Regions from separate parts of the Homo sapiens genome. Here region 2 is linked to region 1. The links come from fine-mapping of genetic effects on gene expression. A gene starts in region 1. The other region holds a variant in brackets. All regions are shown on one strand. Distances are from middle to middle.

What was found. PIP is the estimated chance that this variant, and not a neighbour inherited with it, causes the effect.
Region 2: its variant is fine-mapped to the expression of KALRN in thyroid (GTEx, PIP above 0.99).

Annotation. Positions count from the first base shown.
Region 1 is chr3:124,024,094-124,040,018 of GRCh38, reverse strand. KALRN (kalirin RhoGEF kinase) reads right to left here and starts at 6,650. Exons shown (of 60, transcript NM_001388419.1): 1 at 6,206-6,650. The coding sequence starts at 6,278. RefSeq lists a silencer at 6,675-7,134.
Region 2 is chr3:124,574,518-124,590,442 of GRCh38, reverse strand. All of the region lies in intron 34 of KALRN (kalirin RhoGEF kinase), which reads right to left. It overlaps LOC105374076 (a long non-coding RNA gene), which reads left to right and starts at 5,884. Exons shown (of 4, transcript XR_001740872.2): 1 at 5,884-5,969; 2 at 13,680-13,779. RefSeq lists a silencer at 5,481-5,660 and an enhancer at 12,455-12,744. The variant C/T (reference allele first, on the strand shown) is at 7,450.

The DNA of each region.
Region 1 (15,925 bases):
CTAAAATATATTAATAGTAGAAATAGCCTATAAAAATATAGCATTAGAAATATTAACAACATTCCCTCTCCAGAACCACAAAGTCTTCCCAATACTCCCCCAAAGGCTCCTGAAAAATGATGTGACCAAAAGCCCAGTTCATAATGGGTGAAAGTGGAGGAGATCAAGAAGGGACAACAAGCATTAAATTAAGCATCGTGTTTACACTCTGGAGCATCAAGCATAACTTAAAAAAAAAAAGAGATGTTTTCCTTTGCTGCAAAAGAAAGCTCAGGAAGTAAGAGACTCCTCCCTTTTTAGGTACCTGGCAATGTACAGACTGGGCGGTGACATTTACTCAAGGAATTGCATACCAACATAGATTGTTATTCCCAAATCTCCCTTCTATATGATCTGGACATGACAATAGTTTAAGGTTCCCTGCCTAGATGTGATGGGGTTATTATTTAAGAAAAAAGTTTAAGAAATCATACAGTGAATATAAACAAACCATCACTTAGATTCAATAGCTGCTTATATTTTGCCATGTTTGATTTATATTGTGAGGGGGTGTTTTTTGATTAATCACAAGCTTTTAAAAAGATCCTTTTTCTTACCTCCAAAGAACAAATAACTTCAATGGGGGAGACAAGCCTTCATGTATGGAAAGGCTAAATAACAATACAATACTAATGAAGTGAGAAAATGAGTACAGACAGTGAGTAATTCAAAGGGCTGTCATCGTGAGCTGTGAAAGCTCCCAGAAGAAGGCAGGGATCAAGTCTTAAAGACTGTGTTGGATTTGGAGGGTGCCGGGGTGGTTGATCCAAGGAGACTGTGAATGCAGGAGCCCTTGGGCAGTGTGTGGAGAGCAGCCTGGCTGGAGTTGAGCTGTGAGGCCGACACTTGACCCTGAAGGCACTAGGGGGTTACTGAAGGTTCAAGCACCAAGCAGTGGTGTGATGAAAGTAGTGCTTTAGGAAGTTTAATGTGTCTGCAGGTCCAATTTGGAGTGGGGCTAAGTGAACAGCTTCCAAGGGATGAGAATGAGGGCCAGGAAAGGAGTCCATGGGGGCATATGGGGCCTGGCCTGGGGCCATGCCCTGTGAATGAGCAGCAAGAGCTAACTATGAAAGATAATTCAACAGGGTTTGTTGGAGGAAAGAGAGTCCTCACAGACAATGCCAAGGTTTTAAATATCATGACTGGGAGAGTGAAGGTGTCACTTATAGAATTAAGAAAGTCAAGAGGAAGAGCTAGTTTGGGGAGTTGGAAAGATATACAGAGTTGAGTCTGAGATTGGCTGAAGCCCAAGTAACTGCAAACACTTCAGTTGAAAATGTCTAGATTCACAGAACCAATGCTCAACAGAAGGACAGAGGTAGAAAATATCTCCACATCACTCTTTTCATTTATCTTCTTACTTTTTTTCCTTTGCACCTTAAAGAAAAAGGTTTCTCTGCTGCTTACCAAAGCTAAACTCTTACTTTTGTTAGGGAACCTATTCTTATCTCATTTCTTCAGGTATCAAACTCTACACTCGTTCTAGCCTCCTCAATTTTTCCTCTCCACACATTCTCTCCCTGCCACCTCCAAACCTGCTGTGACTCTAACAAAAAACAAAAATTCCTTTTCTGGATACTAACGTCCCTTCTGGCTAAGCACACACCTCTTTTTCCTTTCACTGATAAACTCTGCAAGTAGCTGATTCCCACTCACCACCCCAAATCCCTCCTCTGAACACCTCTTCTAATCCTGTGCTCCTGGAGTGCACAGGGTCTTTCTTTCATCATGCCCCAGCACTCCTCCTGCTCAACCTGTCTGCAGCCTGTCATCACATCAGAGCCCACACTGACTCCCTGGGGTCTCTAGGATCAAGTCTCCTCTGCTGCCACTTCTGCAATAAGAATTTCTACCCCAAAATCTAACTTTCACCCTTCCCTTTCTTCCTCTACTCCTTCCCTCTGACAGCAGATGCATTCACAAAGCTTCGGCTGCATCCAACCTTCCAAATCAACATCAACAGCCCTAGCCTCCAGCCCATGCTCCTGTCTTGAGTCCCACATTTCCAACTGCTGACAAAACAACTCCATCTGGATTTCCCTGAGTCGCCCCCCCCATGCTTCATGTCCAAAGCTAACAACATTATCTGCCCTGCAAAACCAGGTCCTGTCTTCAACCAGCCCACACCTGTCCATCAGTCAGACACTGTCAGTCCTCTAGGCTCCTCAACCCAGCTACTTCATTTTCCTCATGGGCTTCATTTTCCTCTCCCCCATCACTAGATTATCAACAAGTCCCCACACTTATACCTCTAAAAATGTGTCTCAATGGCATCCCTGACTCCCCATCCTTTCTGCCACCAACCCAGACCAAAGCTCCTCCCCCTCACCTCCAGATCACTTTTGCATCTCCCTAGATTCTACCCTTCTCTTCTCCACTTATTAAATCATATTATCCCAGATTAACCTTTCCAAACACCACATTTTTCATGATGTGTCATTGTTCAAGAATCCATAATGACTCCCTACTGCCCCAGAATCAAATCCAATCTCCACTCTTGTGCTTTCAAGACTCTCCCTATTTGACCCTGCCCCACTTCTCCAATCCTGTTTCCCATTCCTCACTAACCTACATCTTCCTCTATGTCAGCCCAGGCTCTTCAATGCCCAAACTCCCATGTGCCACTGCCCATTCTTCATTCATCCTTCAAGGACCACCCGAAGTTCCACCTCCTCTGTAGTTCTGCCAACTTTTTAACTTATAGCACCACAACGCTTAGCAATAAATCTCTAATTGAACAGTAAATGTCAATCTTCTTCAGAAGTTCTTTGAGGACAGAGACCACTTCGAATATTTCTTTTGTGTTCCACAGCACCGTGGACAGCAGAAGCCTCTAGGGATAATTGAAAAGTTGTTTTTGATTGCTGGTCAATTGGTTTCTGGTCCCAGTTATCAGTTCCCATAACTCCCCTCCTCTGCCTCATAACTATGATCAATAAAATTACTGTAACACACTTTCTCAGGCTTGGAACAGAGAATTCCCAAGAAGACAATCTGGAGTCTACCAATCTAGAATAGTAGGCTGGGTAGGGTGGGATGTCTGTGTCCATGTGCACACAGGGAAGTGAGATTTAGGGAATCTAGCTTAACCAATTGGTCAAGGGATTGAAACACCAAAATGATCAGAAGAGGACAAACAAGGAACCAAAATGACAGAATAATTTGAAACATGCCTAATTAGAAGCACAGTATGCCAGAATTTTGACAAAGCAATTTCCAGTTTGGTCCTTGTGCATACAAAATTTTCCATCAGAAAGAAAGGGGTAACCCTGGTGCTAGGGACTTTGAAAATTTGTTTGAAGCTTTCTCAGTTGTTCAATAGAATACATTTATAATCTATCCAGCCTATCAGGTATAGTGCTATATTCCACAGAGATGGGAAATCAGAAGGGAGAAGGTTTAGAAACATGGCTTTTCTAAGCTTAAGAATCTCCACCAACGCATATGCATATGTTCATTGCAGCACTGTTCACAATAGCAAAGACATGGAATCAACCTAAATGCCCATCAATGGCAGACTAGATAAAGAAAATGTGGTACATGTACATCATGGAATACTATGCAGCCATAAAAAAGAATAAGATCATGCCCTTTGCAGCAACATGGATGGAGGTGGAGGCTGTTATCTTAAGCAAACTAACGCAGGAACAAAAAACCAAATACTTCATGTTCTCACTTATAAGTGAGAGTTAAACAATGAAAACACATGGACACAAAGAGAGGAATAACAAACACCGGAGCCTACTTGAGGGTGGAAGGTGGGAGGACAGAGAAAATCAGAAAAAATACCTATCAGGTACTATGCTTATTACCAAGGTGATGAAATAATCTGTATACGAAACCCCTGTGACACACAGTTTATCTATATAACCCATACATGTACCCCTGAACCTAAAATAAAAATTAACAACAAAAAATAAAAATAAAAAGAAGAAGAAGAATCCCCAGCAAGAGCCTAGGCTAGAGACCAGAAGTGTGGTGACAGTCAGTGAGCCAAGCATAGAGGGCCACACAGGGTGGATGTAGTCCTTGACCTACCCCCTCTTGCAACATGTTACAGGTCATCAGTCATTTCCAGCCTCATGCACCAATGACTTAACCTTTCTCTGATACTAAGTGCACATCAGACTTAGCTCAGCCACTGGGCTGCCCAAGGAGGAGGGAGAATATCCCCAACATAGGAATCCCACAGGAGACTGACCCCAGTCTGCTATTTATTCTGTGATTTGAGCCAGGGTTAGATAATGTGTGCCACACCTTGTGTTTTGAAAGGCCCTGGGAAAAGTAACACATTGGACTATTATTGGCCATTAACACTGTGTGAATTTATTATCAGAAATAAGCAAGCCTCCAGGAACTGAGCTCTGCTACGGGTGCCTGGAACAGAAAATGAACAGGACCTAGTGTTTGGATGATAGGAAAGGGGAAAGAGGAGTGGGCACCAAAAGGTAAAAGTGGAGTCCAGAAAGGGAAGGTGGGAAGGCTCACACTTCAAGATTTTTCCCTCAGAGCTAAGAAAATGCAGACTTTTGCCCCAGTTGGGAGGCAAGGGGGGTCAGCTGGGTTTTTGATTGACTGGTCAATTTGTTTCTAGTCCCAGTTATGAATTCCCATATCTCCCCTCCTCTGCCTCATAATGAGTATTTCTGAATATCACTTAGCCCCCAGAACCACCTTTTCCCTAGATTCCACCTCTTTAGAATCCATGCTTTTGGGTGCTGGGCTGTGTGTGTATGAGAGAGAGAGAGAGAAGAAAGAAAATAGAATCCATGTCTCGGAAGAGGAAGGAGGGAAGGAAGGAGGAAGAAAGAAAAGGAAAGAAGGCTTAGACCTGGGAAGCAGAATAGAATGACAGGGCTCCCTCTGATTTCCCCAGACCCTGGCACCAGCTCCTGTCCTCCAGTTTTTTCCTCTGCACATCAACTAGAGAATGAACATATGAGCCAATCAAGTCTTGACTTCCAAAGCCACAAGTCTCCCCCGCAAAGCACCCCACCCCCTTCCCTAGAGATGACCTCCAGGGCAAGGTAACAGGGTTAGGAAACAGATGGATGTGCAGAGACCCTCCAGAGCTAACCTGACCCCTGACCCCCACCAGTTCATGTCCTCTAATCCAACTTTCCAGAAGGGAGAGCAGATGCATGGGGCCCCGGTAACTTACTGGACTCCTTGGGACAAAGATTCCAGACAAAACTGTTTCAGACATGTGGGGAGATGGGGAGCTACACACAGAAGCTGGTGGAAGCCACAGGTACAGGGAGACGGGGAATCCCTGGCCATCAGAGAAACAGGGCCACAGGTGGTGGAAGATAAGGGTGGTCAGTGCCGGTTCTAGGGAGGGACTGTGTAGCCAGGGAGCAGGAGGAGCAATGGACCCGGGACTTGGACGATGGCAGGGGCGCAAAGAGCTAGAAAGACATCTCAGGGCTCTACACCTCACAGCAAGCAGAGACTTAGTGGGTGTGTATGAGAGGGACGCTAACTCACACTTCCAGGAATGAGTAATTCTTATGAATAGCTCCTCCGTTCCCAGAACTGAAGAGGAGGACAAGGGGGAGGTCCGAGGCGCCCACCGCCCTCCCAGCTGGGTCTGCCTCTCAAGTCAGAGGGACCAGCTCCCCACACGCACCAGGCGAGACCGATGTCTTCCGCCCCACTCCTGTCAGTCTGCAGCCGGCGCGGCTCCGGGTCCCCGCCGCCCCTCTGTGCACATCAGGGCCCCGGGCCCCCGACGGCGAGGAGGGGTGCCGACCCAGGGCGGCCGCCGGGAGCCCCGCTGACAGGCACAGGGGAGGGGGAGCCAAGGGAGGGGCCGGGACGCCGGTAGCCGGAGCGGCGCGCTGCAAAGTGAGCCAACACCGCCCATCCCCGCGCTCTGGGAGAAGGCGGTCCGAGGGGACCGCCTCCCACCTCCCCAACACAGACTCCCGCAACTGGGGTGAAGGCGGAGGGGCGCGGAGTTCCCAGCCCCCACGCCCTCCCCAGACGCAGCCAGCACTGCCATAACAACCAGAATCTCGGCAACTCCAGCCCCGACGCCGAGGGGGCACTGCCCCCCAACACGCACGCGGCAGCAACAGCCCTCCTTCCCCAAACTTGTCCGAGACGCCGCGTCCGAGGCAGTAGCCTTCAGCCCTGGCCCCCCGCGCCCTGCCCGGCTTACCTGTCCGGAAAAAGGCGTCCACGTCCGAGTCTGCTGCTCCTCCTTCCTCCGCTGCTCCCTCAGGGGGGTTCATGACTGTGGGAGGGCGTCCGCGGGCAGCCGGGAGCCGAAGAAGCCTGGGGCCGAGGGCTGCTCGGCGCCCGGTGGGCGGAGGGCGCGGGGCGCAGCTGCTGCGGCCGCAGAGCTGGCGGCCGCGGAGCTTCGAGGGCGGGCGTTGGGCGGCGGGGCTGGGGCAGAGGACGCTGAGCCTCCCTCAGGCGGAGGCGCGCGGCGGGCTGGGGGTGCCTGCCGCCAGCTCCCCCATGGTACCCCTTCCCCAGGGCGCTGGCCGCCTGCTGTCTGGCTGGGGCCGGGGCCCGGGGCCGGGGTGCGGGCTGCCTGGGCGCCCGCTGTCCCCCAGCAGCGGCAGCTGGCTCTCCTGCTCGCCCGTCTGCCTGTCTCTATTGTTCAGCCCTGCTCCGCTCTCTCCTCTTTATTTTTCCTCCTCCCTCCCACCCTCCCTGTCTCCCTACCTCCTCCCTCCCTCGCTCACTCGCTCACTCGCTACCTCCCTCCTTCGCTCGCTCGCTCTCTAGCTCCCCCTCTGGCTCCCGCCGCCGCCGCCGCCGCAGCAGCCGCCTCCCCAGCTCCTCCCCCGGCTCCCGCTCCCTCAGTCCCGGCCAACAATGACCCCGGGAGCGCCGAGCTGAATTGAAGCTCCGGCCGGGGCCGAGGGCTCGCTGCGGGCCCCCGGCGGCGCCTACGCCCCCAGTCCCAGCGGCCCCGCGCCGGCCTCCCGGGGAGCGGAGCCCGAGTCCCGAGCTATTGTTCGAGGCTGTGCTAGGCCGGCTTCCTGAGCTCCGCAGGAAAAGCCCGGGCCAGGGAGGGGGCGGGGCCGCCGGGCGAGCCCGGGGCTGCAGGGCACACGCCAGGCTTGTCCAGGGGGCTCTGCGGCCCGGGCGCTGCGCGCTCAGCTTCTCCGCTCGCGCCGCCGGTGCTCCTCCCGGCCCCGCGGCCACCTCCTCCGTCCACTCCACTCCCAGGTGTGTGAGGGGACCACCAGGCTGCCCGCCCGCCTTCTCTGGATCTTCAGATCGGTCTCCAAGCTGGACTGACCTGTCCCTAGAGGCCGGCCTTTCTTCCCCTCCTTCCTGACGAGCTCTCTTCTGTCTCCCTGCCCTCCTGAGCCTCTCACATTTTCCTCACCAGCTCGCCACAGTTTCTCTCCTTTTTATCTTTTCTCGTCCTTTTCCCCTTTTCAGCGCCCCTTTAAACATCTCCGCCTGTCTCTGTGACTCTTTGTCCAGTTTAATGCTCCTGTGATGTCTCCCTGCCTATCTCTCCCTCCCTCCGTCACTCTCTTGTCCCTCGTTTGTCTCTGTCCTGCCTCCGTACTTGGCCCGTATCTCCGCGCTCCTCTTGGACAGCTGTCAAAACTCTCTAATCCCTGGGGCCTTCTCGGTTTTGTTCTCCCTCATGTGAATGGAGAGATCCAGTTGGCCAGGAGGAAGGAGGTGTTACAGCAAGCTGAATTTCAATTAAAGTGGGGAGAGGGGCTGGGGAGGAATGGGGATGGCTGCAAAAAAGAAAACAGATGCTGTATGGGGTAATTAATGCGGTGATTGTATTGTGCCCATCAGTTTTTAAGCAATAATTAAACAATAATTAGCCAGTAGTGTGTTTATGGTTCTAGTGACTACAGAGCCCACCAAACAGAGGGTCTTTAAGACCTGAGTACTTAATAAGGTCTGCTGAGCGCTGTTCGCTGTTGCCTCATCCAGACAGATGGAGAAGTGGTGGCCTGACCTAATGTGTTAAAACACGCCTAATAGGAAAACCAGGTACTGGTCTGAAGTTAATGACTGCAACCCATCAGACAGAATCTCCTGGATCTGTTTGTCTCTAGTAACCTGTTTGGTTCCACCTCTCTCTGGGGGCCAAGGCAACTGGGGCCTATGCAGATCCACCAACTGTGTAAACTTGTAGCAAATAAAATGAATTAAATTAGTTTTTAGTGAACACTTTCTGGCTCCCTGTACGCATCACGTTCTTCACTGACACAAACAGTCTAATTTTTTTTCACCCATTAAAAAAAAGTACCTGTTTCCAACCTTGGATACACCTATCAGACCTGTCTCCAACCTTGAGTACATCTATCAGACCTCTGTAGTGACTCTGACATCACAAGTTCACTGCCCTGAGATCTAATTCATCTGGCCCTAGTATCTTGAACTGGCTTAAGATGCCCCTTTGCCTATGCCTTTTCTGACAATGAAAATACTTCTCATTTGTCTTTTCAAAATCTTCCTTCCCCTTAATCCTTTGCCTAACCCCTGGTCTGCTCCCCTACCCCCGCACACACATATGTGATGGCAGAGCTGCTATTAATTAATTGCCACCATTGTGCAGCTAAAGAACCAGTGGCCTGGCAAGGCATTAGCTCATCACAATTCAGAAGAAACATTACATGTTTAGAGGAAGGGTCATATCAAAATCTCAAGATATAGACAAGAAAGGGGGAACACCTTATGTAATGACACAAACTTTTTTTGAGAGGAAATTTGGCAACTTCTATTAAAATGTTAAGTGTTCATGGCTATATTAATATCAAAGAAGACTTCAAAGCAAAGAATATTACCAGGGATAAAGAGGAACATTTCAATTCATCAAGCAGACGTAACAATCCTAAGAGTGTTTGCACCTAATAAGATAGCTTCAAAGTACATGAAGCAAAACTGATAGGATTGCAAGGAGAAATATAAAAATTTATAATTATAGTCAGATAATTTAATATCTGTAAAATGCAGTAATTAATAGAATAAGGAGACAGATCATCAGTAAAGATATGGAAGACTTGAACAATGTTATCAACCAACCTAACCTAACTGACATTTATAGAATATTCCACTCCATAACAGCAGATACACATTTTTTCAAATGCACAGGTAGCATTTGTCAAGATAAACCATACACTAAGCCATAAAACAAATCTCAATAAATTTAAAAGGATTAAAATCATGCAAAGAGGTACATAAATTATACCTAAGTTGGTTTTTAAAAAAAAATCAGAGTATGTTCTCTGACCACAATAGAATTAAACTAGAAATCAATAACAAAAAGAATCTAGAAAAACCTCCCAAATATTTGGAAAGTAAATAACACACTTCTAAATAACACATGAGCTACTAAGAATTCAAAGGATGGGCTGGGCACCATGGCTCATGCCTATAATTCTAACACTTTGTGAGGCTGAGGCCAGGGGATCACCTGAGGCCAGGAGTTCAAGACCAGACTGACCAACAGGGCAAAACCCATCTCTACTAAAAATACAAAAATTAGCCGGACATGGTAGCGTTTGCCTGCAATCCCAGCTACTCTGGTGGCTGAGGCATGAGAATCACTTGAACCCAGGAAGCAGAGGTTGCAGTGAGCCAAGATTGTGCCACTGCACTTTAGCCTGGGTGACACAGTGAGACTTTGTCCCCTGCCACCCCCACCAAAAAAAGAATTAAAAGGGGGATATTAGAAAGAATCTCAAAGTGAATAAAAATGAAAACACATTACATAAAAATCTGTGGGATGCAGCTAAGGCAGTCTAAATCTGTGGGATGCAGCTGAAGCAGAAAGACATTTATAGTGCTAAATACCTATTTTGAAAATAAAGATCTCCCATCAATAAGCTCCTATTCTACTGTAAGAGCAAACGAAATCAAAGTGGAAGAACAGAAATAAAAAAGATCAGAGCAGAAGGCAATAAAATAGCAGGAAAACAAAAGAAAAAAATCAATGAAACTAAAGTGGGTTCTTTAAGATCAATAAAATAAAAAAACCTCCACCCAGACTGATCAGAAAATAAGAGAAAAATCTCAAATTACTGCTAGCAGGAATGACAGAGGTAACATCACTACAAATTCTATAAATGTAAAAATAATAATAAGGGAATATTATGAACAACTTTATGCCAACAAATTTGACAACTTTCATAAGATGGACACAAACTACTAAAGTTCACTCAAGGAGAAATTGCTAACTTAAATAGCTATTTATCTACTATAGAAATTAAATTTGTAGCTTAAAAGCTTTCCCCACACACACCCACACACAAAACAACTCAAGATTCACATGGGTTTTTTGGTAAATTTATGAAACATTTAAGGAAGAAATAATATCAATTCCACAAAAACTCTTCCAGAAAAGTGAAAAGGAGGAAATATTTCCCAACTACTTCTATGAGGCCAGCATTACTCTGATGCCAAAACTAAACAAAGGCCATATAAGAAAAAAAATGTAGACTACTTCCTTAGGAATATTTATTAGGAATAAAATTTTTAATAAAATTTTAGCAAATAAAATCTACAATATATAAAAAGGATAATACATCATAACCAAGTGGGTTTATCCCACATATACAAGGTTGGTTTCACATTTGGAAAACTATTCAATGTAACTTACCACATGATATGGGTTGAATTGTATTCTCAAAAAAGGTATGTTAAAGTCCTAACCCCTGGTAGCTGTGAAAGTGGCCTTATTTGGAAATAAGGTGTTTGCAGATATAATCAAATTTGGAATGTGGTCACTAGGATGGACCCTAATCCAATATGACTGGTGTCCCGATAAGAAGAAAAAAAAATTCCATATGAAGACAGAGAAGACAGAGACACATAGGGAAAAATGCCATGTAATGGCAGAGGCAGAGATTGGAGTGACGCAGCAGCAAAGAATACCAAGAATTGACAGCCACCACCAGAAGCTAGAAAGAGGTAAAGAAAGATTCTCCCCAGAGTCTCAGAGGGAGCATGGCCATTCTAACACTTGATTTCAGACTTCTTCTCTTCAGAACTGTGACAGAATAAATGTCTATTATTTTAAGCTACCCAGTTTGCACTACTTCGTTACAGCAACCCTAGGAAACCAATATACCATATTTAAAAAGCAATACAAGTCCGAGTATGGTGGCTTACGCCCGTAATCCTAGCACTTTGGGAGACCAAGGTGGGCAAATCCCTTGATCCCAGGAGACTGAAACCAGCCTGGGCGACATGGCATAACCCATCTCTACAAAAAATACAAAAAGTAGCCGGACATGGTGGCATGAAAGTCAGATCATGTCTCAAAAAATAAAATAAAATTTAAATTTAAAAAAGCGATACCATGTGATCATCTAAGTAGATGCAGGAAAATAATTTGACAAAAATCCAATATCCATTTCTGAACAAAACTCTCAGCAAACTAGGAATAGAAGGGGCTCTCTTAACTTAATAAAGGACATCTACCAAAAATCTATAGTTAACAGCAAGCTTTTTCCCTAAGATCAGAAGAAGGTAAGATGTCTACTCTTACCCCTATTCAATGTACTGGATGTACAGTGCAATAAGAAAAAGAAATTAAAGGCACCCAGATTGAAGAGGAAGAGGTAAAACTGTCTGTATTCAAAGATGGTATGATTGCTACTTAGAAAATTCCATGAAATATATATTTCTTAAACTAGTAGATCTAATAACGAGTTTAGCCAGATTTCAGAGTATAAGACCAATATAAAAATTAAATTGTATTTCTATAACCTAACAATGAAGATTTAGAACTTGAAATTTTAAAACATCACTATAGTAGCATGGAAATAAAAATTTGAAGGCTTAGCCTGATTTTTAAAATATGTAAGACTCATACACTCAAAGATAAAATACATTGCTGAAGGAAATTAAAGAAGATCTAAGTAAATGGGGAGAAATACTGTGTCATGGAATTTTGCAAAGACTCAAAATCCTTAGGACATTAATTTTTCCCAAACTGATCTTAGATTCAATGAAATCCCAATAGGCTCTTTTGTAGAAATTTATAAGTTGATTTGATGAACAGAACCTAGAAAAGCCAAAACAACGAAAGAGAAGAGAGTTGGAGGACTTACACTACCCAATTTCAAGACATTTATGAGGCTATAGTAATCCAGACAATGTGGTATTGGTGTAAAGATAGACAAATAGATTGATGGACTAGAATGGGGTCCAGAAACAGACCCATATGTATATCATCAATTGCTATTGTTGATTTTCAATTATAAAAAAAATCAAAGGGAATTCAGTATAAAAATGGTAGTCTTTACAAATGGTGCTTGAACAATTGAAAAATCTGTATTAGTTTTCTATGACTGCTGTAAAAATTTACCACAAACTTCGTAGCTTAAAACCACACAATTGGCCGGGCTCGGTGGCTCACGCCTGTAATCCCAGCACTTTGGGAGGCCAAGGCGGGCGGATCACGAGGTCAGGAGATCGAGACCACGGTGAAACCCCGTCTCTACTAAAAATACAAAAAATTAGCCGGGCGCAGTGGCGGGCGCCTGTAGTCCCAGCTACTCGGGAGGCTGAGGCAGGAGAATGGCGTGAACCCGGAAGGCGGAGCTTGCAGTGAGCGGAGATCGCGCCACAGCACTCCCGCCTGGGCGACAGAACGAGACTCCGTCTCAAAAAAAAAAAAAAAAAAAAAAAAAAAACCACACAATTTTATTACCTTACAGCTCTAGAAGTCAGATGTCTGAAATGAGTCCCACTGGGCAAAAATCAAGATGTTAGCAGGGATGTGTCATTTCTGGAGGATCTAGGGGAGAATCCACTTCTTTACTTTTTCTAGCTTTTAGAGGACACCCGCATTTTTTAGCTTGTGTCTCCCTTCCTCCATCTCCAAACCAACAATGATGAGCCAAATCAGTCTCACACTGCCATCTCTCTGTGTCCAGAATATATAAACAACTCTCAGACCTTCATGATAAGAAAACAAACAACCCAACTTTTAAAATTGGGCAAAAGATTTGACTAGACACTCACTTTAGAGATATACAGACAGCAATAAGCATTTGAGATAATGCTCAATACTATTAGTCATGAGGAAAATGCAAACTAAAAGCTCAATGAGATGTGATGATTTATTGGAATGTCTAAAATTAAAACGCCTGAACATATCAAGTGCTGGTGAGGATGAGGAGAGGATGCAAAAACGGAACTCTCTTACACTTCGAATGCAAAATGGTACAATTACTTCAAAAAACAGTTTGGCAGTTTCTTAACTAGGTAAACATACACTTACCATGTGACACAGTCATTCCACTCTTGGTATTTACCCAAGAAAAATAAAAGCATATATCCATGTAAAGATTTGCACACAAATGTTCATAGCAACTTCATTTATAATAGCCAACACCAGGAAGTGATCCAAAAATCCATCAACAAGCAATCAGATAAACAAATTGTGATATATCTATACAATGGAATACTATGCAGGACTTGGATGAATCTCAGAATAATTATGGAGCGTGAAAGAGGTCAGACAACAGAGAGTATATTCTAGGTGATTCCATTTTTATAAAATTCTAGGAAATGCAAAGTAACCTATACTGACAGAAAGCAGATCAGTGATTGTCTGGAGATGACCAGAGTCGGAGACTGGGAGCTGAAGGGAGAGAGAGGGGAGTTATAAATGGGAACGGCATAACTTTTGGAGGCGATGGATATGTTCTTGACTGCAGTGATGGCTTTTATGGCTGTATGCTTATGTCAAAACTGATCAAATTGCACACTTTAAATACATGCAATTTGTCAAATGTCAATTATACCACAATAAAACTGTTTTAAAAATCAATTTTTTAAGTAAATGGGATAAAGCTACATGTGCTTACAAGGAAATACCAGTTATCTTGAGGGGACTTTTATAGTCCATAAAATATTTAAATTTTCATAATGTGGATTCTTTACAATGATGTGAGAGAGAGAGACAGGGAGAAAATCATCAGCTGGAGAAACTTTTTCCCATGATGCATAAGAATGCCAGAGTGGAGGAAGGAAGAGCTATGTTCAGGTCTATGTATTTAGAAACAGCTCCCAAGGCATCTTGACATACACCCCCTTTGCTCCGCCCCTACTCAGAGATTTAAAGGAAGGAAGGGACAGGATGGGATAAGATGGAAGAAGTGTTTTCAGAAGGTAGATGAGCCTAGGAGACTGGAAGAAGGAGTTCGGAGTCCAAAGAATAGTGTAGAAGTACTTCAACGAAGCTGTGGCTGTGACTGAAATGGAAAGCTGTGGAAGGCAATGAGAAAGGAAACATAATAGCATGTGTTGATGCCTTATATATGGAGAGAAGCAGGTGTGGGCAGGAAAGAGTGAGCCAGGGTGAGCAGGAGTCCAAGAACCACTAGGTAACCGAGAGAAAACAACGGCATAACAGGAAAAATCGGCTTCTAAAGGAGAAATTTTTCCTCTAGAGAGAGAGGAGAAAACAATCTGGGGAAAGATGAGGAAAGTGATTAAAATATTACTTAATCGAACCCCTCATTTCAACAACAAGAAGATTGAAAAGTAGAGAGTAAAGTGACTTGCCTGAAGATCCACAGCAGACCCCAGAATTCATGAGTCCTAGGCGGGTTCCCATGGTGTTTCCCTATCACACACATTTCCTCACCTATGTTAGGAGTCTGAAGTGATGATGGGCATCCAGGTGGTAATGTCCAATCAGCAATTAGTAATGTCCAATTACTATGGTGATGTCCAATTGGCAGAGCAGCTGAGAGAGGGCTTGGCAGCTGGGAATATTGATTAAGGAGCTAAGAGCTGGTTGAAGCACCAAGAACGAATGAGATAAAAGATTTTCTATCCACTTCCATTAACTTTCCTCTTTGGATGAAATTATCTATCTGTATATCCTGCTTTCTACTCAAATCAAACGTGCCTTAGAACCAGCACCTCTCCCCACTTTTCCGACTTCTTTATTCTAATTTCACAGACTAGAATCTGAAAGACTTCTGGGGTTCCTCCCCTTCCTCCACTTCCTGCATCCATGCTATCATTAATCCTGTGTTTTCCTTTGAGAGAACATCCGTTGCCCTCTTTTCCCTCTAATGCCATCCTAGCCCAGCCTTCAGCTCTATGGTCTTGAATTTCTACAACAGCTTGCCAACTGGCCAGGCAAAGTGGGGAAGTGAAGCCAATGACTGAAAGAAACAATAGGCCAGAGAGACAAGTCACAGGAATATGTCGGCCATGTAGACTAGGGGAAAGGGTGTTAGGAGTGAGACAGGGGTCAAACAGGTCAGATGCCACAGGGAAGTAAGGGGCAGAGAGGATTAAGACATGGAGACAGAATTTGGGTAAGTGGCAGGTTTTAAGCGAGCTTCAGTAGAGAAAGAGGAGCATAGAACTGGGTTATAGGAGACAGTGTGTGGTGAGGGAGCAAAGCAAAGGATAGAACCGTACCACAGGCAGGACAGGGGCCAGTGTGTGGTGAGGGGATGGAAGCAGCAAAGAGGAATTATCTTTTCATGAAGAGTGAGCAGTGAAAAAGAAAAGAAGGGCCGGGCGCGGTGGCTCACGCCTGTAATCCCAGCACTTTGGGAGGCCGAAGCGGGCGGATCACACGTTCAGAAGATTGAGACCATCCTGGCTAACATGGTGAAACCCTGTCTCTACTAAAAAATACAACAAAAATTAGCCAGGCGTGGTAGTGTGTGCCTGTAATCCCAGCTACTGGGGAGGCTGAGGCAGAATGGCGTGAACCAGGGAGGCGGAGCTTGTAGTAAGCCGAGATCGCGCCACTGCACTCTAGCCTGGGCGACAGAGCGAGACTCCTTCTCAAAAAAAAAAAAAAAAAAAAAAAAAAAAAAGAAAGAAAGAAAGAAAAGAAGACAGTAGCTAGACAGGATGATCAAGTTTCCAAATGTTTATTTTTTTCTGTTGTTTTCAAAATGGAGCA
Region 2 (15,925 bases), 550 kb before region 1:
TAAAAAACAGATACAGAGTCATAATTTGCACCTTTTATTCCCAAGGTAGGATTTATGAACCTATACCCTATGGAACCATTGCCTACAGGATTATCAGTGATTGTTGGGCATGCAGCTGTACCACAGGAGGGATATTCAGCTTCAGTTTCCAAACTCCACCTCACCCCACCACCTTCATACACCCCCATTTCTACCATGCTGTGGTTTGACTGGCAGTCAGTACTGTTATCCAGATACTAATTGATACTGTATCTAGGTAATAAATGATACACCTATCACCATTCAGTAGATTAGATAATCAGACATGGAAAGAGAAGCATAGGATTCGGGTTGAAGACAGTAAATATGTGTGCTACTTCTTCCCAGGTTGAGTATATCCCTGGTTGATTCTGCTGAGACATTTAATTTAAAAAAAAGAAAAAAAGAAAAAAGAAAGATAGAAATAGAGTACATCCCTGGGAGGCAAAGAAAACCAAGAGACATATCGCAAAAGCATACAGTAGGCCCTGTGTATCCACAGGTTCTACATCCTCAGATTCACCAAACTCTGACAAAAAATACTGTATTTGTGGGATGCGAAACCCATGGGCACAGAGGTCTGACTTTTTGTATCTGAAGATTCAATAAGGCCGACTATGGGACTTGAACATCCTTAAAGTTTGGTACCCGCAGGGGTTCCTGGAACCAATCCCCTGTGGCTACTGAGGGACAACTGTATATGCTAAATAATCAATTCAGTTTCCATCATGGTAAAGGCATTTCCTAGAAGATGAAGAAATAAAAGGATACACATCAAGGCCCCAAGGATTTTATCCCCTGGATGGTGAATTTTTATTTTTGTTTATTTTTTGGAAACAGGGTCTCACTCTGTCACCCAGGCTGAGTGCAGTGGTGCCATCATAGTTCACTGCAAACTTGAATTCATGGGCTCAACCGATCCTCCCACCTCAACCTCCCGAGTAGCTGGGACTACAGGTGCATGTCACTACACCCAGCTAATATTTTAATTTGTAGAGATGGGATCTCCCTATGTTGCTCAGGCTGGTCTTGATCTCCTGGGCTCACACAGTCCTCCTGCCTTGGCCTTCCAAAGTGCTGGGATTACAGTGGATGGTGAATTAAAGTCAACAACAGTGAATGTCATAATGGTTCCTTTTTGCAGTTACCAACACCTTTGTAAAGGAACTTGGTGTCACGGTTTCACATATTAAACTCCATTTATCAAATGGGCTATATTAATTTAAGGACCAAGGAAGAGATATTTACGTCAAGTCATAAGGTTTCTGGCTGAGAATTCTGGAACAAAGTAGGATAAGACAAAGTTATAGATAAAAATGCCTTTGGATGCCCTGTGAATCCCCATACACTTACCCAAAGCCCATGACATCAGAGACAAGCAGGAAGGACTACCCAAGTAAAGAAAGAATCATAGAAACCAATCCCTGCACCTCCCCAGTGAAGTGATTCAGTTTGGGTAAGTCCCACCTCCTTCCTCTCTTTACCTCTGAGATGTTCAGGTGGCTGGACTATCTCAGTCTAAATGTGAAGACACAATGGCACGTGGGCTTGGGATGCAAGGACAATGATACAGCAATAAACAAGTATAAATAAATCCCATGCACACTGTGGAGGATGGTAATCAGGAAAAGCTTTCAAAAGGGGACTTTTGTCCACATACCTAAAGCTAATGAAAGTTGACTAGAAACTTAAGTCTCTTGGTTGGGCACGGTGACTCACACCTGTAATCCCAGTACTTTGGGAGGCCGAGGGGAGTGGATCACTTGAGGTCAGGAGTTCAAGACCAGCCTAGACAAAATGGTGAAACCCCGTCTCTACTGAAAATACAAAAAATTAGCCGGGCATGGTGGTGCACGCCTGTAGTCCCAGCTATTCAGGAGGCTGACGCATGAGAATTGCTTGAACCTGGGAGGCAGAGGTTGCAGTGAGCCAAGATTGTCCCACTGCACTCCAGCCTGGGCGACAGAGCGAGACTCCATCTCAAAACAAAATTAAGTCTCTAAAACTGGCTTCTACCTAGAAAGGTCAGAAAAATCTCTGGGCTCCTTGATCACAAATTCCAGTGCAATACATAACTTAGCAATTTCCAGGTGATTTGAAATCTTTTCTGAACTGACCCACTTTTTCAGGCTTGAAGGACAGTCTAGCTAGTCAAAGCTATCCCAAAACTAACTCCCCACAGAGTGTGACATCAATGATTTATCACCCCTTAGACACATGCATGCCATTATCTCACTTTTGGTTGTTTTTCACCTTCAAAAAGGCAGTTATAAATGCATTTGCCTTCTTTCTTCCTTCTTACCCGATATCTATTTCCTTTCTATCCTTGGTTTTCAGTTTTCCTGCCTTTCAACACCAGTTTCAAGATAGGGAAGAAAAATCATCTTTCATCAAACCTGCTTTCTGTACTCATACTCAATAGAACCAAAAAGGCTAAGTGCAGTGGTTCACGCCTGTAATCCCAGCATTTTGGGAGGCTGAGGCAGTAGGATCACTTGAGCCCAGAAGTTTGAGACCAGCCTGGCAACATAGTGAGACCTTGTCTCTACAAAAAATAAAAATATTAGCCTGGGGTAGTGGCATGCACCTATGGTCCCAGCCACTTGGGAGGCTGAGGTGGGAGCCCAGGAGATCCTGGTTGTGGTGAACCATGATCAAACCACTACACTCCAGCCTGGGCAACAGAGTGAGACCCTGTATCAAAAAAAAAAAAAAAAAAAAAAAAAGTGGAGGGTGGGGGTGGAGGGAAAAATACAAGATAGTCGCTTTCCATACTCTTCCAAATCAAAAGATAAGTTCAGTGAAATTCATCCATATTTTCCTCAAATGTGATATTTAAAGACCACACAGGTACTTTATCTAAATCCTTGACTCTGACCCTAGTGATGACAATTACAACCACTCAGAATTCACCAGAGAAATCCCAATGTAGCTCACTTAGCTTCAAGTCAAAAATAGCCAAAACATTCCACTTCCTCTTGGTTCTTTTACTTTTGTCCTTTTCCTCAGACTTTAGAAGGAGGTATCCTTTAAATCCTGCATGACTGGAAGTCAGATGGTCAAGTCCCCTTGCCTTGGGAACCACAGCAGTGGGCTCTGAGTCATTGCTTCAGAGTCAAGCTACTCAAGCCGCAGGAGACAGCCAAGTTCTCCCTGAGAGAGAAGGGATAGAGACCAAACAACCGGCCGCCTTTATCTACAAGGTGGAGTGTGGAGGTTGCCTTTCCATTGTATTTTCCCTAAGACCAGAGGAACTGGTTCAACTGAAAAGGGAGGCAGTCAGTCCCCTGCAGTGCACACCCTCCACTTGAGAGACAGCCTCAAGACTCTCCCCTCAGCCCTTTTGGGTGTTGCAATTGGGCAAGCCTCTTCCCAAAGAGTCCACGGACTCTGGGCCATGCACTCAGGCTCAATACAGACCTTATCTTTTCAATCTGTTTTCAAATTGATGCCTACAGGCTGAGTGGAGACTGTTTTCGGTTAGAGTGAGCCTGAGGGAGCCTCAGGGCATGCCCAACACCTCAGACACGACCCCCAGCCTAGCCACAGGCAGGAGTTTTCTTTGGAGAGTGGCTAACTCACCTCCCCCACCATCGTCCTCTGATGAGCCCGTTTTTCATCTTCACACATTTCAGATCTAGGGGAGTGAGGAGTAAAGCAGGAGAAGGCCCCGGGCACCCACCTTGCCACCCTTCTTTTCCCTTTTAAACTGGTCTCATTGCTTGGACCTCTGACTCCCTCAGTCTTCATCTGAGGGTCGCTAGCCTTTTCAGCTCCCGCTCCTACGATAGCCACTCGCACGCCTCCTCTCCTAGCCACGGAGCCAGCAGCCACTGCCTTCACAGGCCCTAGGCAGGAGGCACTTACCAGGCCCTGGAGCCAGCTCCCCAGCCCTCCCCTGCATCACAGCGAGAGTGAAAGTCGGGCAATTCCTCAACAAAGCAAGGGCCAGCAAGACGCCCAGAGAGTTACCCTGAAGGGCAGCCAGGGCTGTCACACATCTGGACTCAAGGAGGCAGCTGTGGGGACTTCAGATAAGCACCACCCCAGCCCCCACATTCTGTCTGACAGGAAACGGACTCCCAAGAAATCCTGCAGAGAAACTCTTTGCGGGGAAAGCAGGGCAGCCTTCGAGCGAACCCACCCACTCAGATTCCCCTTGGCCATTTCCTGCTTCCTCCGCGCTTTATTCCCCCTTTCCCTCAATTCCCAGCCTTGGTTTTGAATGTTTCTGAATCAGACTTAGAGGGTCCCTGGCCCCTCACATTCCTTCTTCATCTGAATTCTGGTTTCTAGAGCTCAAAACCACACGGTTCCAGGCTGCTCTAATTAAATACAGAGATTGAGACCATCTGATGCTAAGATTATGACCTTAATGACGCGCAGGAAAAGTCATTCAGATTTAATTAGTTTTGGTAACCTTATATCTGCTCAGGATAGAAAATTTCTCAGGGCTATGTTGTGTGTTTGTGGCACAGAGGATGCTGAAAGGTGGCTTGGATGAAGTTTATTCACCAGTAACTCAGCCAGAAAGTTCCATTAGGATTTTGCATAGCAGATGGGATGGGAGACTGGGTGGGGTATTGTAAATGGGGGTGGAGGCCAGAGGCCCAAAAGGTGAAACTTTTTAAAAGGGCAAATGTCAAGTAGGGGGCTACATTCTCATTTCTACCCACACAAAAACAGTCTTCCCCCGCTATCCTAGCGTGTGTTAAAGTGACATGAACAGCCTTAGGAGCATCTGCTTATCCTATTTGGGAAGGTTCTGATTTTTTTTTTCAGAAGAAGCCACACAATTGAGAACCCTCCCTCTGTGATCCTTCTCGCCCTCCTGTTCGCCGGCTGCTTTGGGGGAAATTGGTTGCTTCCTGCAAGTCTCTTCCACGACGTTAAGATTAGCAGAATAATTAAATACAGTCCTAACTGGGCACAGAGAGAGTTGTTAATTAATGAGCCAAGCTCCGGCCCGGAGCTACAAATCCACGCTGGCCTGTGAAAACCCAGGCAGAAAAAAATGTGCTCCAGTCCCACGAGAAAATTGTCACTTGGCAAAAATAGTTCCTGGTGTACAGACAGGTGTCAAACACATTCCTGTAGCCAGGAGTCACACGTTAATCCCGCAGCTGAGATCCATGTGTAAATGAGAGGTGAGGTACTTCTCCGCCACTATAGGGACACACGCGGCTCTGCGTCCCCTTCCCACCCCCGCGTCCGCATCCCACTCCCTAGCAGGCTGGCGCCCTGACATCCAAAGTCGCTGCTAGGTGACTGAGTTCCCAAACAGCAGCTCCGCATCCAAGTCAGAACCTCACCGCCAGCCAGCGAGCGCGCGCGTTCTGTCTGGGAAACTGTGAAACGGATCGCAGCAAACTCTCTCACTTCGCCGCCCTCCTGATCCCCAGCCCCATCCGCCTACCCCAGAGGCCTCCCCAACCCTTCCCTCCCTACCACCCTCCCTCGCGCTGAGCGCGACCAGTCTGGCTAACAGAAGGCACCAAGGCCGCCGACAGCCACTCACCTCTACACGGGAAGCAACAGCAGCACTTAGCAAAGAGCCACCCCAAAGAGGGACCTCGGGTGTAAGCCCTGTCGCCGCCCTTCATGTTGCCCCGCCGCCCCAGCGCTCCCGCATGGCACGGGGCGCCAGCCCGGGGTGAGAGCGCGGCGGGAAGGAAACTTCAGCGCCGCCGCCCGAGAGCCGGCTCCCGCCCTCCCCGCTGTGCTCTCCCCGCACCGCGGCCGCAGCTCTGACTTACTGGGAGCCACTGCCACCTTGGGAAGCGGGGAGGGGCCAGGCGGGGAGGGAGGGCCTAAGGGGCGGAGTTCCAAGGTCCAGCTGTGGGCAGGAGACCTGGCCAGCAGCGGCCGGAGCCTCATGTAACGCTGCCTGTGGCACCAACGCTGTGGGCACGGGGCAAACGGGTGGAGTTTGAGCCCTTGGCACCAAACAGGTAGGTACTCCTTATGTGCAACTTCCTCCCTTCAAAGGCCACCACAATGGGCGTTGGCTTAAAAAATACAACTAGATGGGGCCAAAGAGGTAAGAGAGGGGCAGACTTAGATGCTCCAAGACTCAAGGATGCCCTTTTCTTCCTCGCAGCCTCACCCGTTCCCTCCCCACAGCCTCCTCTGTATTGAAAACACCGTCCCCAACCCTTTCCTTTCCTTCCGTGTAATGCTGATTACTAATAATGATAACAGTGCCTCATATTGATCAGCTCTCCAACTGTAATGACGTGAAAACACACTCTGGGTTTGGAATCATACAACCAACCTTCAAAGCTCAGTTTTGCCACCTGCTAGCTGTTTGAACTTAGGCAAGTCACTTCACCTTTTATCTTCAGTTTCCCCATTTAAAAAAAAAATGTAAAAGAATTCCTATATTCCACGGTTGTAGATTTTCTTTAAAAAATTTTCTTTAATAGAGGCAGGGTCTCGGGTCTTGCTATGTTGCCCCAGCTAGTCTTGAACTCCTGGGCTCAAGTGATCCTCCTGCCTTAGCCTCCCAAAACATTAGGATTAGAGATGTGAGCCACCACATACAGCCGATGGTAGAATTTAAAAATATCTATGGATGTCTCCCAGAGTTGCTGATTTAGTAGGTAGGAGGTGGGGCCCGAGAATTTGCATTGCTACAAGTTCCCAGGTGATGCTGATGTTGGTATAGGACCACACTGAGACCTACTTGAGATTCAGACTTTTTCCTTGCCTATTTGGCAACTGTCCCCTTTTCTTTTTGTAACAGCCCCTTGACTTGTCTTTGAGGAACCAGTCCTCCTCCCTTCTCAGGCCATGTTTCTGGGCTAACATCCTGTTACAGAGGTGAAGTTTAATATTTCCAGGTGAATGAATGCCTACAGAGAAACTTCGAACATCTTACTTACGGTGCAAGACTTCCATTCACCATCCCCTCGGCCCAATATGCCCAGTAGACCTATCATTCCTTTACTTATATCCCTATCCCTATCTTTTAAATCTTTTTCATGTTTCAAGGCCAAGCTTGCTTTCCACAACCCCCTTGAAGCCCACTTGGACCACATCAGTGGGACCTTTCCATGAACCACTGTATTACTCACAGGGTGTCTCTCCCATTCCTTTGTGTCCAGCTTTAGGGCAAAGGGCCTGCTGGAAACACACAACACTCATAAAGAGGGCCCATTCATCAGAAAAAAGGGAAGTTTGTGGGAGGAATGAAAAACAGAAGCTTGATCACCCAGGTAACCAATGCCTTCCTGGAAGAAACACACTCATGGGACAAGGCTTTTAAAAGTTACCAGGATTTGGGGCTTCCTTTCCCAGTTGGAACCATGCTTAGATTTGTGCTTTATTTATCTATGTGACAGCCAGGCATGGTTGCTCATGCCTGTAATCCCAGCACTTTGAGAGGCCAAGGCAGATCACTTGAGCCCAGGAGTTCAAGACCAGCCTGAA[C/T]GATGCAGGGAGGCCCTGTCTCTACAAATAATAAAAATAAATGAATAAGTACATAAATGAGCGGTGCTTGGTGGACCATACCTGTGGTCCCAGTTACTTGGCAGGCTGAGGTGGAAGGATCACTTGAGCCTGGGGATGTCAAGCCTGCAGTGACTCATGATTGTGCTGCTGCACTCCAGCCTGGGCAACAGAGTGAGACCCCATCCCCCCCAGCTCAACCCCCCCAAAAAAAATGTGCCAAGGCATCTGCCACATGGTTGGGATACCAGTAAATGATCGAAGCATGACCTAATGAGTAATAATAGCTTACATTTATTGAGCATTTATATGCTAAGCAGTTTCCTCCATGTTCTCCATATACTATCTCATTTATCCTCATAAAAAAACCTTGTAAAGTAGTGTCCTGTTTTACCTTTGAAGAAACTGAATTAATAAACTATGATGAGGCTTTAATGGTTTAATTCTAAAGAAAAGCTCTAAAAAGCTTCACCCCTTTGGAACAGTAGAACATAAAGTCAAAAATCTACCCTCTAGTTCTGCTACTGCCATCTCCCTGATGGTTTCTCTTGGCAAGGTTTACATAAGAACGTCACTGTCAAGCAGGAAATGAATCTCTGGTGCTCTTTCTAACACATACAAAAACAGAGAAATTACAGTTCAAATTGCTCATGTTGGCTGGGCGCAGTGGCTCACGCTTGTAATCCCAGCACTTTGGGAGGCCAAGGTGGGCGGATCACCTGAGGTCAGGACTTCAAGACTAGCCTGGCCAACATGGTGAAACCCCATCTCTACTAAAAATACAAAAATTAACTGGGCATGGTGATGCATGTCTGTAATCCCCACTATTCGGGAGGCTGAGGCAGGAGAATTGCTTGAACCCGGAAGGCGGAGGTTGCAGTGAGCGGAGATCGCACCATTGCACTCCAGCCTGGGCAACAGAGTGAGACTCTGTCTCAAAAAAAAAAAAAAAAAAAATAGCTCATGTTGTCTGCACCCAAGATTCCTGATTCACTGACCATCCTGATAATTGGTCAGTCTCATTTTGCCAGACTGAATTACTGCAGGATCCTTAATCCTCACATAGTTATCCTGGGTTCCAGTTCTGACCCACAACAACCAGCACTATTATTTAGTTCTCTCTTCCATGTCACCAAAGACAATACCTATTTTGTTTTTCTTGCAAGCCCAGACCAAAACTGTCTGTAAAAATTAACTTTATTTGCTTGTGATCCATAGTATGGATGCTATGGTCCAAGGTTCAATATTTGGTTTACCCACCCAATCCCTCTCTTTTTACACTTTGGGGGCATTATGATGGGAATTCAAAGATGCTTCAAAATTTCATGGGGAATAACCAGTTTGTTTTTTACTCAAATCTTCCCTCTTGGTTTTTGTGTTCAGATAACACTGGATCACTTTTTTGTCACAATTCTTTGCAAGAGACTAATGACATCTCATCCTGCTGAAACTGGCTTGAGTTACATGTTTGAGAAAGACCCAACTCTTACTTTAGAAATCAAATACCAGTAGACCCTAAAGTAGTCCACTATAGGCAAAATGGATCCACTGGGCATGTTTCCACCGATACTTTTTTTTTTTTTTGAGCAGAGTCTCACTCTGTCACCCAGGCTAGAGCGCAGTGGCACGATCTCGGCTCACTGCAACCTCTGCCTCCCGGGTTCAAGCAATTCTCCTGCATCAGCCTCTGGAGTAGCTGGGAATACAGACGTGCACCACCATGCACATCTAAGTTTTGGGATTACAGGCGTGAGCCACCATACCCAGCCTCTACTAATTCTTATAACCCAGGAATTCATCCTACTCTCAATTTAAAGGCATAAAACCATTAGGAACCTCTTCCTATCTTAAGTTGGCAAGGTCAACACATTTTTGGCCATCATGGAGATTCATTCTAGGGTTAGACACCAATAACCCAAGAGTCCCATTGCCATCCTTACATGCCTTCCAGAATGAGACTAGCCAATGTCTATAACCTAACAAGGAAATCCTTTCCTTTCCTTTATTATTATTATTATTATTATTATTTTAATAGAGACAGGGTTTTGCCATGTTCCCTGGGCTGGTCTTGAACTCCTGGGCTCAAGCGATCTGCCCCCCTCGGCCTCCCAAAGTGCTGGGATTACAGGTGTGAGCCACCACACCTGGCCATCAAGGAAATCTCAAACAACATGGGGACACTAACTGTTTGTGGACCTACTCGTTAATTCATCAAATACTTACTGAGTGCCTACTCTGTGTCAGGCTCTGTTCTAGGTACTGGGTCTACATTGGTGAACAAAAACAATTTCAGTCCTTCTGAAGCTAGCTACTAGGACAGACTCATCATGAATGTGAGAGAAAAGTGAATCCACATCAGATATGTGACCAGGTTTATTAGTTGAGAGGGTTAATAGATGCCTAGATTCTCCAGCCTGCATCCAGATGTTTTAAGTTAATATTCTCAAGACAATTTAGAAGGGATGGTGGAGAATATGATTTTAAAACATTGGTGCTGATAAGAATCAGGAGGGAAGCATTTAAAAATATTAGGCATTAGCATTTTTTAGGCTCTGAGGTGGAACCAAGTCTGAGGCCATTGCTGCCTGAGTCCCCCCTCCCCACCCACCCCCACACACACCCTGAGATTTAGATCAATTGACTTTGGGTGCAACTGGGCGCAAGTATTTTAAAAGTTCCCCAGGTGTCTGTAATACGCAGCATAGTTTGAAAACCACTGGTGCAGTGCGGTGGTTCTCAAACTCAAGTATACATCAGAATCACCTGGAGGGTGTGTTAAAACACAGATTATTAGGCTCCATTCCCAGAGCTGCTGATTTAGTAGGTCTGGGGTGGGGCCTGAGAATTTGCATTGCTATGAGTTCCCAGGTGATGCTGATGTTGTTGGTACAGAAACACATGGAGACCTACTCGAGATTCGGACATTGTCCTTGCCCATTTGGCATTTGTGCCCTCTTCTTTTTGTAACAGCACCTTGACTTGTCTTTGAGGAACCAGCCTTCCTCCCTTTGGAGACCATGTTTCTGGGTGTGGCTGACATCTTCCCCTTGTCCACCCTCTACTCCAAAGATAAGCCCATGACCTGGGTGTGGCCAGGCAGCCACAGGGATTGGTTCAGATTTAGCACATGACTCGAGTTTATGCAATGAGCATAAACCTTGTGATCTTAGCAAGAACATCTGAGAAAACAGCCATCCCTTTCAACAAGATTTCTAAGTTGATGGAATGTTAGCCTAAAGCAGCTGGGGGTATTTTGCTATAACAATGTGGGAAGAAGCTCTCCGAGAATGAAGCCAATACAGGGAAAAGATGAGAGAGAGAGGTAGGTTTCCCATGATATCATTTGAATAGCTAGAGAGGCTTCTTCCTAAAGCTTTATTCCTGGACCTTACTTGTGCCCGCCCCTCGCTTATACATTCCTTTTTGTGTAAGCCAGTTGAATGTCTATTATTTCAGGGTTTTCACATACCTACCCACCCACTCCCAAAGTTCAGGCTAAAAGCTCCTGAGCTATAAGCAATATATTTAAAGTAGTCTTACTTTTCAACTAGATGGCTGAGTCTCATTTATATTTTTGGCAGACTTTGTCTTCAGTGATACCTGCAGCCTAAGTCCATTTTACATGAATAAGGCTTTCTGCCTACCTACGTGACCACTTTATGTCCCACCCTCATTTCCAACAACAGTGAACCCCAAAGAATTTCTGGTATCAGCCTGCAGATGTAGTAGGCCAGGTGTACCACAATGTCAGGCCTGACATCAGGCACCAGTGTGACTGCCTCTCCCTCCACATTAACCACAGTCTTCAGTAACACTGGACCATGACCTCAGGTACCTGTCTCTTACACTAACAGACATATGCCATTTTTTTTTCCTTTAGGGTTATTCTCTTCAGATGGACAGGAAAAGAATTTTACTAAATCACAATCATTTCCCCACATTTCTTAAAGCTCAGGATAGAGAAAGAAGGAACAGCAACCATGCCCCAATTCAGGCCTAGAGATTCATAGGAGACCCTTCTTACTGTGACCTTTTATAGAGCATAGGCTTGGTGAGCCGTGATCATGGTTCCTGGTGAGTGCAGAGGCCAGGCCCTGATCTCCTTAACTCCACTCCAACCATTCCCTTGCTCTCCTTTCCCCACAGGGGTGATTCTCACCTGTAGCACTCACCCCCATATTTGGATTCTATAGGTTTTTTTTTTTTTTTAAATGGAGTTTCACTCTGTCACCCAGGCTGGAGTGCAGGGGCACATCTTGGCTCACTGCAATCTCCACCTCCCAGGTTCAAGTGATTCTCCTGCCTCAGCCTCCCGAGTACCTGGGACTACAGGCAAGCGTCACCAAGCCCGGCCAATCTATGGGTTTTAAAAAGCTCTGCAGAGGATTTCAATGTGAAGTCATGGCTGAGAACCACGGACTTTAGGGCCCAAGGCCACTCACACTGTGGATGAGTTCCTGCATTGTAGAGTTTAGGAAACACTTGAACACAAATGGTTTTACTTTCTCAAACTCTGACAATCGGTCCCTTGACCCATTCTTCCACTGCCTGCCATGCTCCCTGGTTGCTAACTGCAGGTTCCTTAATTCTCATCTTCCCTGTGTAGATTTCTGATCTATGAACTGCCTGATTGCTGATATCGGGATGGCTAATCAATATTCCCAAATTACCAAGCCCTGGCCTCCATTTGTGGCTGTGGCCTAAACATCTAAGATTCTTTCCAAGTACTAATCATTTATTCAACAAATAATTGGTCTTGGAATATTTACTATTTGTAAGTCACTAAGCTAACCTATACATGGGAGTTTATAAGGAAAATGTAAATTAAATAAGGCCTGTTCCATGAGAAAAGACAAAGAAGAACAGGGTGAATTCTAGCAGAAGTTGGTTTAATTTTCTGTGGAAGAAAAAAGAAATGGAAACAGAATAGTACTGGACATAAGGTTGGGGTTTCTTCTTTATGTGAAAAAGAGGAATTGAGACAATAGTCATCAGTAACCAGAAACACTTCAATTAGAGAGAGGAGGTACAATGTGTACATTGCTTCTATATTTAATTTGAACTCCAAATATGGTGGGGGGTTTTGTTTGTTTGTTTGTTTGTTTGTTTTGTTTTGGAGGTAGGGTCTTGCTCTGTCATCCAGGCTGAAGTGCAGTGGCATAATCAGAGCTCACTGTAACCTCAAAATCATGGGCTCCCACCTCAGTCTCTCAAGTAGCTGGGACTACAGGCATGCATCACCACACCTGCCTATAGAGATGGGGTCTCACTACATTGCCCAGGCTGGTCTTGAACTCTTGGCCTCAAGCAATCATCCTACCTCAGCCTCCCAAAGTGCTGAGACTACAGGCATGACCCACTGTGTCCAGCCCAAATATGTTTTTTTTCAAAAGTGTATAATATCTGTGTGGGTAACCATTCCCAGGTAATATGCGTTATTTTAACAGTAAGGTGTACAGAAAAAGTGTGCTTGCCAGAATCACGCATAGTAATCTCTTCTCCTTCTTATCTCTGTTTAGTGTGGTCTAACCACTGCACCACTGCTGGCCCTGTGGGTACCATCATCCACTTGGTGACAGACAGCTCCTGGACTCTAATGACTGAACCATTACTGAGCTCAGTCCATATGTCTTCACCTACTGACCTTTAAATGTGTTCCTCTGTACTTGCCCAATTGACACCTGTTTGCCTCTTTCTAGCTGTCTCACTTATCCTTAAGAGAGGCCCCAGCTCAGCCTGCAGCCACCCTCTTTTTTTTTTTTCCAGGAAGTATTACTGATCACTGTCTTGTCTGAACCAGGTTCAAGGTAGGGGGGTGGTTCAGGCCATACTGAGAGGACACAGATGTCTCCCCAGAATGGCCAACATTCCTCTTCTGTGAGGACAGAGAGGAAGAACTGCTGGCAACAAGGACAGGTTCCTGGATATCTGTACTGAGCAGCCGCCTGAGCTGGCCTGAGCTCAGGGGCAGATGAGCTATTTATCAAAGTGAAAGATGGCTGCAGCTGGAATTGCTAAAAACAAACCACTCCAGGTTTTATCTACTTCCAAAAACGTTTACCTCTAAGTAGGTCAAAGTGTTCCCAAAGTAGGGCAGTATAAGAGTGCCAGTCTATCACTCTGAGTTTCAATTAAGGTAAACTTATGATTGCTAAGTGTCCACTATGTGGGATGGCATTTTAATTCTGCCAACGCCACCTTCCCTCCTACAGGCACAAATAGCAGCTGCAGCAGCATGTACATTCACGGAGTACAGTGCAGAGGTTTCTGATGAGTCAAATGGAAAGTGGATTTTGTCTTGATGTAACTCAGGTGAGTTTATTGAGGATTTCCAATAATAGAAAGGATGTACATCTGCCAATAATGGAATGTGGATAATGACCTGCTCATCCTTCAACCAGTCCAAATAAATGAGAGGTACTTAACCCATACGTCCCCAGAGAAGACTTCCTCAATCAGGACTCCTAGCATCAGAACATGATTCCCCATTCCCATCCTGAAGTCCTCCTGCTAAAGCTTAAGCCAGTTTCCTTTACCGTTCTACATGCTGAGCCTGGTCCTTCACATAAGAACTCTGCAGAGGTCCCTGATGCATGATCCGTCCCTCCTTTCTATAAATATTTACTGAGAACTTCTTACATGGCAGCTACTGTTTTAGATGCTGGGGATAGGGCAATGAACACAGTAGACAAAATCCCTGTATTGGTAGGGGGGATTTGCAGAGGAATATTAACAAATATGTCAGGTAGTGATAAATGCAATGAAGAAAAGTAAAACAGAGAAGGGAGTATACACTGTGATGGGAGAGGGTGGGAGTTAGGGAAGACCTCTCTAATCAGGTGACATTCAAGCAGAAGGAAGTGTGACAGCAAGACATCCAAGTCTCTGAGGATCTGGGGTATCTGGTGTGTTCCAAGCAGAGGGAACAAAAGATCAGGCCCTGAGGTGAGCGTATGCATGGCTTGATTGGTAATGGCTCAGTGAGGCAGGCTGGTCAGGTGAATGGTAGACAGAATAACGTCCGCCAAAGATGTCCACATCCTCCTCTCCAGAACCTATAAATATGTTACCTTATATGGCAAAAGAGACTGTGCAAATGTGATTCTGTTAGGGACCTCGAGGCAAGGGGATTATGCTGGATCATTCTGGTGAGGACAGTGTAATGGTGGGTGTTCTTAAAAGCAGAGAACCTTTCCCACTGTGGCCCAGGGGAAACATTACCATGGAAGGAGGATCAGAAAGATGCAACATTGCTGGCTTTGAAGATGGAGAAAGTGTGGTGGTCTCTGGAAGCTGGAAGAGGCAAGAAATAGCTTTTCCCTAACAGCCTACAAAAAGGAATGTGGCCCTGATTGCTGAAACTGTGATTTTAGCCCATGGGGACTCATGTTGCATTTCCAACCCACAGAACTGTACGATAATGAGTTTGTGTTGTTGTTTGAAGCCACCATGTTCATGGTAATTTGTTACAGCAGCAACAGGAAATGAATACATAGGAGATGAAGTCAGAGAATAGGCTCCAGAACAGGTTTTGTGGAGCCTCTTTGCAGTCACAGAAAGGACTTCGTTTTACTGGAAATGAGACAGGAGACACTGGAACATTCTGAACTGAGATGGGTCTTCAGCCTGGGCCACCTCCCTGCAGCTGGGGGCAAGCAACGGGGCAATTATCTGTTCGCCCTCCTGTGTACAAAGGTGAGGAGCCAGACTTCCTGTGGCCTAGAGGCCCATGTGGAAAGTAAGGCAAGTGGGCACAATCTGAGAATCAAGATTCTGGCTGGGGTTAGTGGATACGGGGAGAAAACAAGACAACCCAGTCCTACCACAAGGGCAAAGAAAGGGGCAGGCTGTTCAGTAACTGCCCATAGGGCAGAGGGCTGGTATTCAGAATGGCAATTAGTAGTAAATGGAAAGACTTCTCATGCTTGTTTGCAGGGTTTGGGTTAAGGCTGCAGTTTCACCCCCACATAGATCCTCGGTGAGGAGTTGTTCTCAAGGAGCAAGTGAGACAGGGAAGGCAGTGTGGCGGTGAGAGGAGGGTGCTGACTGCTCTGTCCTGCAGAATCCTGTTGCTGAGAGCTCCTAGAGCTGTGGCCTGCAAGGGCTGCTCCTCAAGGCCTTTGAGGTCCTCCCATCTCTGCCCTTCCCTGAGCAGACAGGATGGGCACATCCCAAGATTGTCCAGACCATTGCCTTGCCTTCTCTTTTCCTCAAGTCACATTCAGTGCATGTCATTCCTGGGTCCCCGTGTTCTTCTAGGGGGAAAGTGTTCAGCTTAGCTAGCTGTAAGCAAGAAAACTGCACCATCTTTCCTCTGGGGGAACATTCTGTTTGCTGGGGTAACCTCCTCTCTATCATCTCCAGCTTCTTCTCAGAAAGCAGTCAGTGGCAGCCTTTCTTCTCTGGGATCAAATCCTGAGGCTCTCATTTTAGCTCTGAGCTCCATCAGCTGGTTCAT